Linked DNA regions of Homo sapiens. The protein of the gene in region 1 interacts with the protein of each later gene in a biochemical or structural test. Each region holds a gene or a part of one and is shown in the gene's direction. Other genes may lie near its edges.

What was found.
Region 2: the proteins of MAGEA3 (region 1) and USP17L2 form a complex in vitro, tested with the Homo sapiens proteins (one study listed by BioGRID).

The regions. Positions count from the first base shown.
Region 1 is NC_000023.11:152,697,385-152,701,842, forward strand, and holds the start of MAGEA3 (melanoma-associated antigen 3), read left to right. Parts: upstream 1-1,409; 5' UTR 1,410-1,445; exon of another isoform or gene 1,446-1,690; intron 1,691-1,821; exon of another isoform or gene 1,822-1,880; intron 1,881-1,921; exon of another isoform or gene 1,922-2,404; intron 2,405-3,173; exon of another isoform or gene 3,174-3,237; 5' UTR 3,238-3,303; intron 3,304-3,383; 5' UTR 3,384-3,448; coding exon 3,449-4,393; 3' UTR 4,394-4,458. UniProt on the Homo sapiens protein: Activator of ubiquitin ligase activity of RING-type zinc finger-containing E3 ubiquitin-protein ligases that acts as a repressor of autophagy. May enhance ubiquitin ligase activity of TRIM28 and stimulate p53/TP53 ubiquitination by TRIM28.
Region 2 is NC_000008.11:12,135,805-12,140,382, reverse strand, and holds USP17L2 (ubiquitin carboxyl-terminal hydrolase 17), read left to right. Parts: upstream 1-1,533; 5' UTR 1,534-1,622; coding exon 1,623-3,215; 3' UTR 3,216-3,948; downstream 3,949-4,578. UniProt on the Homo sapiens protein: Deubiquitinating enzyme that removes conjugated ubiquitin from specific proteins to regulate different cellular processes.

The DNA.
Region 1 (4,458 bases):
TGCAATAGCAACAAAATTCATGAATTGCCTGAAAAGAAGTCTAATAAAAATGTATAAGGTCTTTATAGAGACAACTGTCGAAGTATACTGACATATTCAGGTAAAAAAAAGCTTGAAATACATAGAGGAGTATAACATATTCATTCATGGGGAGCACAACACTGTAAAAATGTAAACTCAGCTTAAATTATTTACAATTTAGTGCCTTACCTGTAGCCGCCGCCATTACAACAAATTTGGGCTGCTGTGCTCTGCTTCCCAAATCAAACCTGGAAAATTACAGAATGGAAACAGTAAATAAAAAACCAGTATCAGCAACAAAATCTACGCAACAAAACAGGGAAAGCCCAGGGTGAGACTCAAGGCTGTGTTGAGCTGGTACTTGTGTTTGACACTTGCAGTGTTGGTTGGAGGGGGTTAGCAGCAGGGATGTTGGGGAGGTTTGTAGCCGGCCTACACGGTAGATGACAGAATGGGTAGAATAAAAGTTTGAAATTTTCCACTTCACTTCTTTGCACAATCTGAGGCAGCCTCTGAAAACACGATGCCAAGAGCCCTAGGTAATAGCAGGACACCAGGAAAATTTGGTTGGTTAAGGCAGTATGACTCCAGAGTTCTGCTAATAACAACCTGAAACCACCATAGTGGCAGAGGAATTACATTTTTAAAAAAAAAAAATTCTTTCAACAGAACACAAAGACTGAAATAGGAGGTCACTACAACCGCGGGAGCTGCCGCCCCGCCCTGCAGGGAGCACCTGGCCTGGGACCCGCAGGCATTCTCTACAAGGGGTGCAGCTGTGCAAATGCTCACAGGTGACAGAAACAGAGCATCTCCTGCCCATCACTTCATCCAACAGCCAGAGGTGACGAAGACGACCCTCCTGAGTGAGGACTGAGGGTCCACACCGCCCCCCCACCCCACACACCATAGAGGGACCACAGAATCCAGCTCAGCCCCTCTTGTCAGCCCTGGTAAACGCAGGCAGTGATGTCACCCAGACCACACCCCTTCCCCCAATGCCACTTCAGGGGGACTCAGAGTCAGAGACTTGGTCTGAGGGGAGCAGAAGCAATCTGCAGAGGATGGCGGTCCAGGCTCAGCCAGGCATCAACTTCAGGACCCTGAGGGATGACCGAAGGCCCCGCCCACCCACCCCCAACTCCCCCGACCCCACCAGGATCTACAGCCTCAGGACCCCCGTCCCAATCCTTACCCCTTGCCCCATCACCATCTTCATGCTTACCTCCACCCCCATCCGATCCCCATCCAGGCAGAATCCAGTTCCACCCCTGCCCGGAACCCAGGGTAGTACCGTTGCCAGGATGTGACGCCACTGACTTGCGCATTGGAGGTCAGAAGACCGCGAGATTCTCGCCCTGAGCAACGAGCGACGGCCTGACGTCGGCGGAGGGAAGCCGGCCCAGGCTCGGTGAGGAGGCAAGGTAAGACGCTGAGGGAGGACTGAGGCGGGCCTCACCTCAGACAGAGGGCCTCAAATAATCCAGTGCTGCCTCTGCTGCCGGGCCTGGGCCACCCCGCAGGGGAAGACTTCCAGGCTGGGTCGCCACTACCTCACCCCGCCGACCCCCGCCGCTTTAGCCACGGGGAACTCTGGGGACAGAGCTTAATGTGGCCAGGGCAGGGCTGGTTAGAAGAGGTCAGGGCCCACGCTGTGGCAGGAATCAAGGTCAGGACCCCGAGAGGGAACTGAGGGCAGCCTAACCACCACCCTCACCACCATTCCCGTCCCCCAACACCAACCCCACCCCCATCCCCCATTCCCCATTCCCATCCCCACCCCCACCCCTATCCTGGCAGAATCCGGGCTTTGCCCCTGGTATCAAGTCACGGAAGCTCCGGGAATGGCGGCCAGGCACGTGAGTCCTGAGGTTCACATCTACGGCTAAGGGAGGGAAGGGGTTCGGTATCGCGAGTATGGCCGTTGGGAGGCAGCGAAAGGGCCCAGGCCCTCCTGGAAGACAGTGGAGTCCTGAGGGGACCCAGCATGCCAGGACAGGGGGCCCACTGTACCCCTGTCTCAAACCGAGGCACCTTTTCATTCGGCTACGGGAATCCTAGGGATGCAGACCCACTTCAGCAGGGGGTTGGGGCCCAGCCCTGCGAGGAGTCATGGGGAGGAAGAAGAGGGAGGACTGAGGGGACCTTGGAGTCCAGATCAGTGGCAACCTTGGGCTGGGGGATGCTGGGCACAGTGGCCAAATGTGCTCTGTGCTCATTGCGCCTTCAGGGTGACCAGAGAGTTGAGGGCTGTGGTCTGAAGAGTGGGACTTCAGGTCAGCAGAGGGAGGAATCCCAGGATCTGCAGGGCCCAAGGTGTACCCCCAAGGGGCCCCTATGTGGTGGACAGATGCAGTGGTCCTAGGATCTGCCAAGCATCCAGGTGAAGAGACTGAGGGAGGATTGAGGGTACCCCTGGGACAGAATGCGGACTGGGGGCCCCATAAAAATCTGCCCTGCTCCTGCTGTTACCTCAGAGAGCCTGGGCAGGGCTGTCAGCTGAGGTCCCTCCATTATCCTAGGATCACTGATGTCAGGGAAGGGGAAGCCTTGGTCTGAGGGGGCTGCACTCAGGGCAGTAGAGGGAGGCTCTCAGACCCTACTAGGAGTGGAGGTGAGGACCAAGCAGTCTCCTCACCCAGGGTACATGGACTTCAATAAATTTGGACATCTCTCGTTGTCCTTTCCGGGAGGACCTGGGAATGTATGGCCAGATGTGGGTCCCCTCATGTTTTTCTGTACCATATCAGGTATGTGAGTTCTTGACATGAGAGATTCTCAGGCCAGCAGAAGGGAGGGATTAGGCCCTATAAGGAGAAAGGTGAGGGCCCTGAGTGAGCACAGAGGGGATCCTCCACCCCAGTAGAGTGGGGACCTCACAGAGTCTGGCCAACCCTCCTGACAGTTCTGGGAATCCGTGGCTGCGTTTGCTGTCTGCACATTGGGGGCCCGTGGATTCCTCTCCCAGGAATCAGGAGCTCCAGGAACAAGGCAGTGAGGACTTGGTCTGAGGCAGTGTCCTCAGGTCACAGAGTAGAGGGGGCTCAGATAGTGCCAACGGTGAAGGTTTGCCTTGGATTCAAACCAAGGGCCCCACCTGCCCCAGAACACATGGACTCCAGAGCGCCTGGCCTCACCCTCAATACTTTCAGTCCTGCAGCCTCAGCATGCGCTGGCCGGATGTACCCTGAGGTGCCCTCTCACTTCCTCCTTCAGGTTCTGAGGGGACAGGCTGACCTGGAGGACCAGAGGCCCCCGGAGGAGCACTGAAGGAGAAGATCTGTAAGTAAGCCTTTGTTAGAGCCTCCAAGGTTCCATTCAGTACTCAGCTGAGGTCTCTCACATGCTCCCTCTCTCCCCAGGCCAGTGGGTCTCCATTGCCCAGCTCCTGCCCACACTCCCGCCTGTTGCCCTGACCAGAGTCATCATGCCTCTTGAGCAGAGGAGTCAGCACTGCAAGCCTGAAGAAGGCCTTGAGGCCCGAGGAGAGGCCCTGGGCCTGGTGGGTGCGCAGGCTCCTGCTACTGAGGAGCAGGAGGCTGCCTCCTCCTCTTCTACTCTAGTTGAAGTCACCCTGGGGGAGGTGCCTGCTGCCGAGTCACCAGATCCTCCCCAGAGTCCTCAGGGAGCCTCCAGCCTCCCCACTACCATGAACTACCCTCTCTGGAGCCAATCCTATGAGGACTCCAGCAACCAAGAAGAGGAGGGGCCAAGCACCTTCCCTGACCTGGAGTCCGAGTTCCAAGCAGCACTCAGTAGGAAGGTGGCCGAGTTGGTTCATTTTCTGCTCCTCAAGTATCGAGCCAGGGAGCCGGTCACAAAGGCAGAAATGCTGGGGAGTGTCGTCGGAAATTGGCAGTATTTCTTTCCTGTGATCTTCAGCAAAGCTTCCAGTTCCTTGCAGCTGGTCTTTGGCATCGAGCTGATGGAAGTGGACCCCATCGGCCACTTGTACATCTTTGCCACCTGCCTGGGCCTCTCCTACGATGGCCTGCTGGGTGACAATCAGATCATGCCCAAGGCAGGCCTCCTGATAATCGTCCTGGCCATAATCGCAAGAGAGGGCGACTGTGCCCCTGAGGAGAAAATCTGGGAGGAGCTGAGTGTGTTAGAGGTGTTTGAGGGGAGGGAAGACAGTATCTTGGGGGATCCCAAGAAGCTGCTCACCCAACATTTCGTGCAGGAAAACTACCTGGAGTACCGGCAGGTCCCCGGCAGTGATCCTGCATGTTATGAATTCCTGTGGGGTCCAAGGGCCCTCGTTGAAACCAGCTATGTGAAAGTCCTGCACCATATGGTAAAGATCAGTGGAGGACCTCACATTTCCTACCCACCCCTGCATGAGTGGGTTTTGAGAGAGGGGGAAGAGTGAGTCTGAGCACGAGTTGCAGCCAGGGCCAGTGGGAGGGGGTCTGGGCCAGTGCACCTTCCGGGGCC
Region 2 (4,578 bases), on another chromosome or scaffold:
AGCCAGGGCTGTTTCTTTACACCCAGAGGCCTTGGCGCCGGGCCTCAATTCTGCCCTGTTCCTTACTGTCTAAGACATTTTGGGAAAATCCCTAGAGCCAGGATCTTCATTCCTGGTAAGCCAGAGAGCCTGAAGACACACCCAAATGCTGTCCCTCTTAGTTCAGGGAACATGTCCACTTTCGTCAGCATTACAATTTTTGCATCAAAGGTGCTAACTGCAATTCCACCATACAATGCATAACTGGAAATGGAGGGAACATCTCAGAGCATGAACAACCGATGCGAGAATCCAGGAGATACACGGTTTATTTTTGCCATTTCCCAGTGAAACAAGAGCCAGTATTAAAAAGGTTATGCTACCCTCTGTTTCACTCACTGCTTTTAAACGTCTCCGATGTTTTCTTCTTCAGACAGGGCCTCACTCCCGTCACCCGGGCTTTTCTACGGTATAATTTTCCTTGTTTGCTTTTGTCAAAATTAGAACTTTTTATTTCATCTCTATGAAATGTTGATCCATTATCACGTAAGTATGGAAATAGTATCACCCATGCTGTGAGATACGTTGTTTTTATTTTCATCAGTTCTTTAATAAACAAAAGCTTATAGTTGGGATACCTTTGGATTTCTCAAGTTTTTTGTTTCAAGTTTTCTTAAACTGCCGCCGCACGTCCGAAACCACTCACTATACAATGTCAGGACCATCTCTCTTTTCTGGCACACATAAATTTGGGGAATGTCATCAATTAGTCTCTCGGTGATTGCATGATTTCCCCAAAGTCTTTCACAGCCTACTTTGTGCACTGAGTAACTCTTCAAACTTCAGTGCATGTTTCTACCATTTGATGCTTTATTATTTGGCAGCCTAGCTTCCACAAGAGCATTTCATGCAAAGACTTGTCTTGTTCTCCACTGGCCAGTAATTTCACTCGGATAGAGAGTCAATAGGCTGAACGTGGAAAGGTTATCCCTGGAAGGTCTGTTTGATGCCACGGATATCTCCTTTATTATTAAGGAAGAAAATACGCTGTGCTAAATACTATACTTCATTGACTATTCTCAGGTCAGAAAGCGCACTTCAGACTTCTTGTCCTTCCGTCGATGAGAGGATGACGGTAGCTGCCAAAAGTACATACTTGGAAGTTCATCCCAGCACAAGCACACACACACACACACAAACACACACACACACACACACACACAGAGAGATACACACACGGTTTCATAGGTAAAGATTTCTTCCCTGACATTCTTTTACCTAAAATAAGGCAACTGTGTGGCCACTGTCCCAACCCGGTTACACTCATATTATATGTGCCTATCACCCTGAGGAGTAATTTGATTCAGGTGTTCTAGAAGTCATGATGTGGGCTGTGTCTGTTGAATTCCCAGCGATGCAAGGGGACACACCCTGTGACTCATTCCTTAATTGAGTGCTGATATTTGATTGGTTTATCGCACACCTGATGGGTGGGTGGGGTGTTCGCGGTTGGTGGGGGTGAGTTATATAAGGGCTGATGCGGCCAGAGAGCTCGTCATTTGAAGACTCTCTTGGAAGAGATAGCGTCTTGCTGCAACCTGCAGTCCCAGCAGAAAAACCTTGTGATCCTTGTTGCGGGCGACATGGAGGACGACTCACTCTACTTGGGAGGTGAGTGGCAGTTCAACCACTTTTCAAAACTCACATCTTCTCGGCCAGATGCAGCTTTTGCTGAAATCCAGCGGACTTCTCTCCCTGAGAAGTCACCACTCTCATCTGAGGCCCGTGTCGACCTCTGTGATGATTTGGCTCCTGTGGCAAGACAGCTTGCTCCCAGGAAGAAGCTTCCTCTGAGTAGCAGGAGACCTGCTGCGGTGGGGGCTGGGCTCCAGAATATGGGAAATACCTGCTACGAGAACGCTTCCCTGCAGTGCCTGACATACACACCGCCCCTTGCCAACTACATGCTGTCCCGGGAGCACTCTCAAACATGTCAGCGTCCCAAGTGCTGCATGCTCTGTACTATGCAAGCTCACATCACATGGGCCCTCCACAGTCCTGGTCATGTCATCCAGCCCTCACAGGCATTGGCTGCTGGCTTCCATAGAGGCAAGCAGGAAGATGCCCATGAATTTCTCATGTTCACTGTGGATGCCATGAAAAAGGCATGCCTTCCCGGCCACAAGCAGGTAGATCATCACTCTAAGGACACCACCCTCATCCACCAAATATTTGGAGGCTGCTGGAGATCTCAAATCAAGTGTCTCCACTGCCACGGGATTTCAGACACTTTTGACCCTTACCTGGACATCGCCCTGGATATCCAGGCAGCTCAGAGTGTCAAGCAAGCTTTGGAACAGTTGGTGAAGCCCGAAGAACTCAATGGAGAGAATGCCTATCATTGCGGTCTTTGTCTCCAGAGGGCGCCGGCCTCCAAGACGTTAACTTTACACACTTCTGCCAAGGTCCTCATCCTTGTCTTGAAGAGATTCTCCGATGTCACAGGCAACAAACTTGCCAAGAATGTGCAATATCCTGAGTGCCTTGACATGCAGCCATACATGTCTCAGCAGAACACAGGACCTCTTGTCTATGTCCTCTATGCTGTGCTGGTCCACGCTGGGTGGAGTTGTCACGACGGACATTACTTCTCTTATGTCAAAGCTCAAGAAGGCCAGTGGTATAAAATGGATGATGCCAAGGTCACTGCCTGTAGCATCACTTCTGTCCTGAGTCAACAGGCCTATGTCCTCTTTTACATCCAGAAGAGTGAATGGGAAAGACACAGTGAGAGTGTGTCAAGAGGCAGGGAACCAAGAGCCCTCGGCGCTGAAGACACAGACAGGCGAGCAACGCAAGGAGAGCTCAAGAGAGACCACCCCTGCCTCCAGGCACCCGAGTTGGACGAGCGCTTGGTGGAAAGAGCCACTCAGGAAAGCACCTTAGACCACTGGAAATTCCCCCAAGAGCAAAACAAAACGAAGCCTGAGTTCAACGTCAGAAAAGTCGAAGGTACCCTGCCTCCCAACGTACTTGTGATTCATCAATCGAAATACAAGTGTGGGATGAAAAACCATCATCCTGAACAGCAAAGCTCCCTGCTAAACCTCTCTTCGACGACCCGGACAGATCAGGAGTCCGTGAACACTGGCACCCTCGCTTCTCTGCAAGGGAGGACCAGGAGATCCAAAGGGAAGAACAAACACAGCAAGAGGGCTCTGCTTGTGTGCCAGTGATCTCAGTGGAAGTGCCGACCCACACGTAGGGGTGAACGCACACACACACACGCACAAATACACCCACAAGCGCGCACGCAAACACACACACACACACAAACACGAACACCGTCAATCCTACATAAAGTAATGAGGAGTCCAAGTTTCTGTCTCTACAACAGGGACAACTGGATAGTGATGGCTGCATCTCAGGATGAGCCCACACATGGGAAACATCAAGTTTTGGGGTCGTGAGTCTTCCGAACCTCTGGAGAGACTGTCTGTGTGTTTGTGTTCATGGTAGATGACATTCACTGTGTATTTCTGAATATGACCTACTGACGTGTAGGTTTGAGTGTGAGGTTATTGCAGGGGACTCGGTTTCCTATTTTCTCTTGGGGTGTGTTTCATTCGTCAGTTGTTGGGCGGCACGAGAAGGTGAAATTTTGCTCATGTGGCACATCCATGGATCATTCTCGCCACCTTGAATAGTGGAAACTGGAATGCATTTAGAAGATAGGAACGGTGCTCTTCTTTCTTACCCTGGCTCACCGTTTTTACATTGGTTTCTGAATGGACCTCAGGCGCCCTGGGACTTGTGCTCTTGCTGGAACCCACATAACGCCGGAAACAGACAGACCGACTTGCCTGTTTCACGATGTCCAATTCCAATGAGTCGAAATGGAAAATTTTCCCACTGGCATGTCAGTCATTTGGAAATAAGTCGTATTGATAATAAAGGAAATCAAACACAGGAGTGTGTGTATTCAACTGAAATAAATTCAGAAAGCCCTGAAATAAACCTCATTTGGTGTGCTTACAAATGGCATTTGGGGAGATTCCGGGTCATTCGTCCAGCTGCGAAAGCTGCATCTCTGAAGCACAGTCCCTGTCCTGCAATCAGACTTACGTATCCGACGTGGTGTTTCCGTGGAAATGATTGTGGGAAATGGCCCCTTGCTTGTCTGTATTTGCTGATTAGATTTCATGGTCCCTTTCTCGTTAGGTGCAGTGATCAAAGTTGACCAACCCCAGAGGAAAGCTGCCCAGGGCACCACTCAGGGCTCCGTAGAACCACAGAATCTTGGGCGCAACCCTGCTCAAGCACCCAAATGTGCATACGAACAGGGTCTCCGTGTGACGTGTGTGAAAACTACAGTGTGATGAGCATGACTCGCAGACAGGTTATCGATTGGGCTCCCCTCAAAATCAGTTAGGAACATGAAAGCACACCGATGCCCAGGTCCCGGCTGCAGGAATAAGACCCTCCGACGTCTTGTGTGAAGCCACGACATCTGCATTGCTCATGCTTCTGGGGATCATTCTCCTGAAAATGGTGGCTTCTTTCTCCCTGTGGAGCATCTTTCTAAGCAGTGCTCCTTTC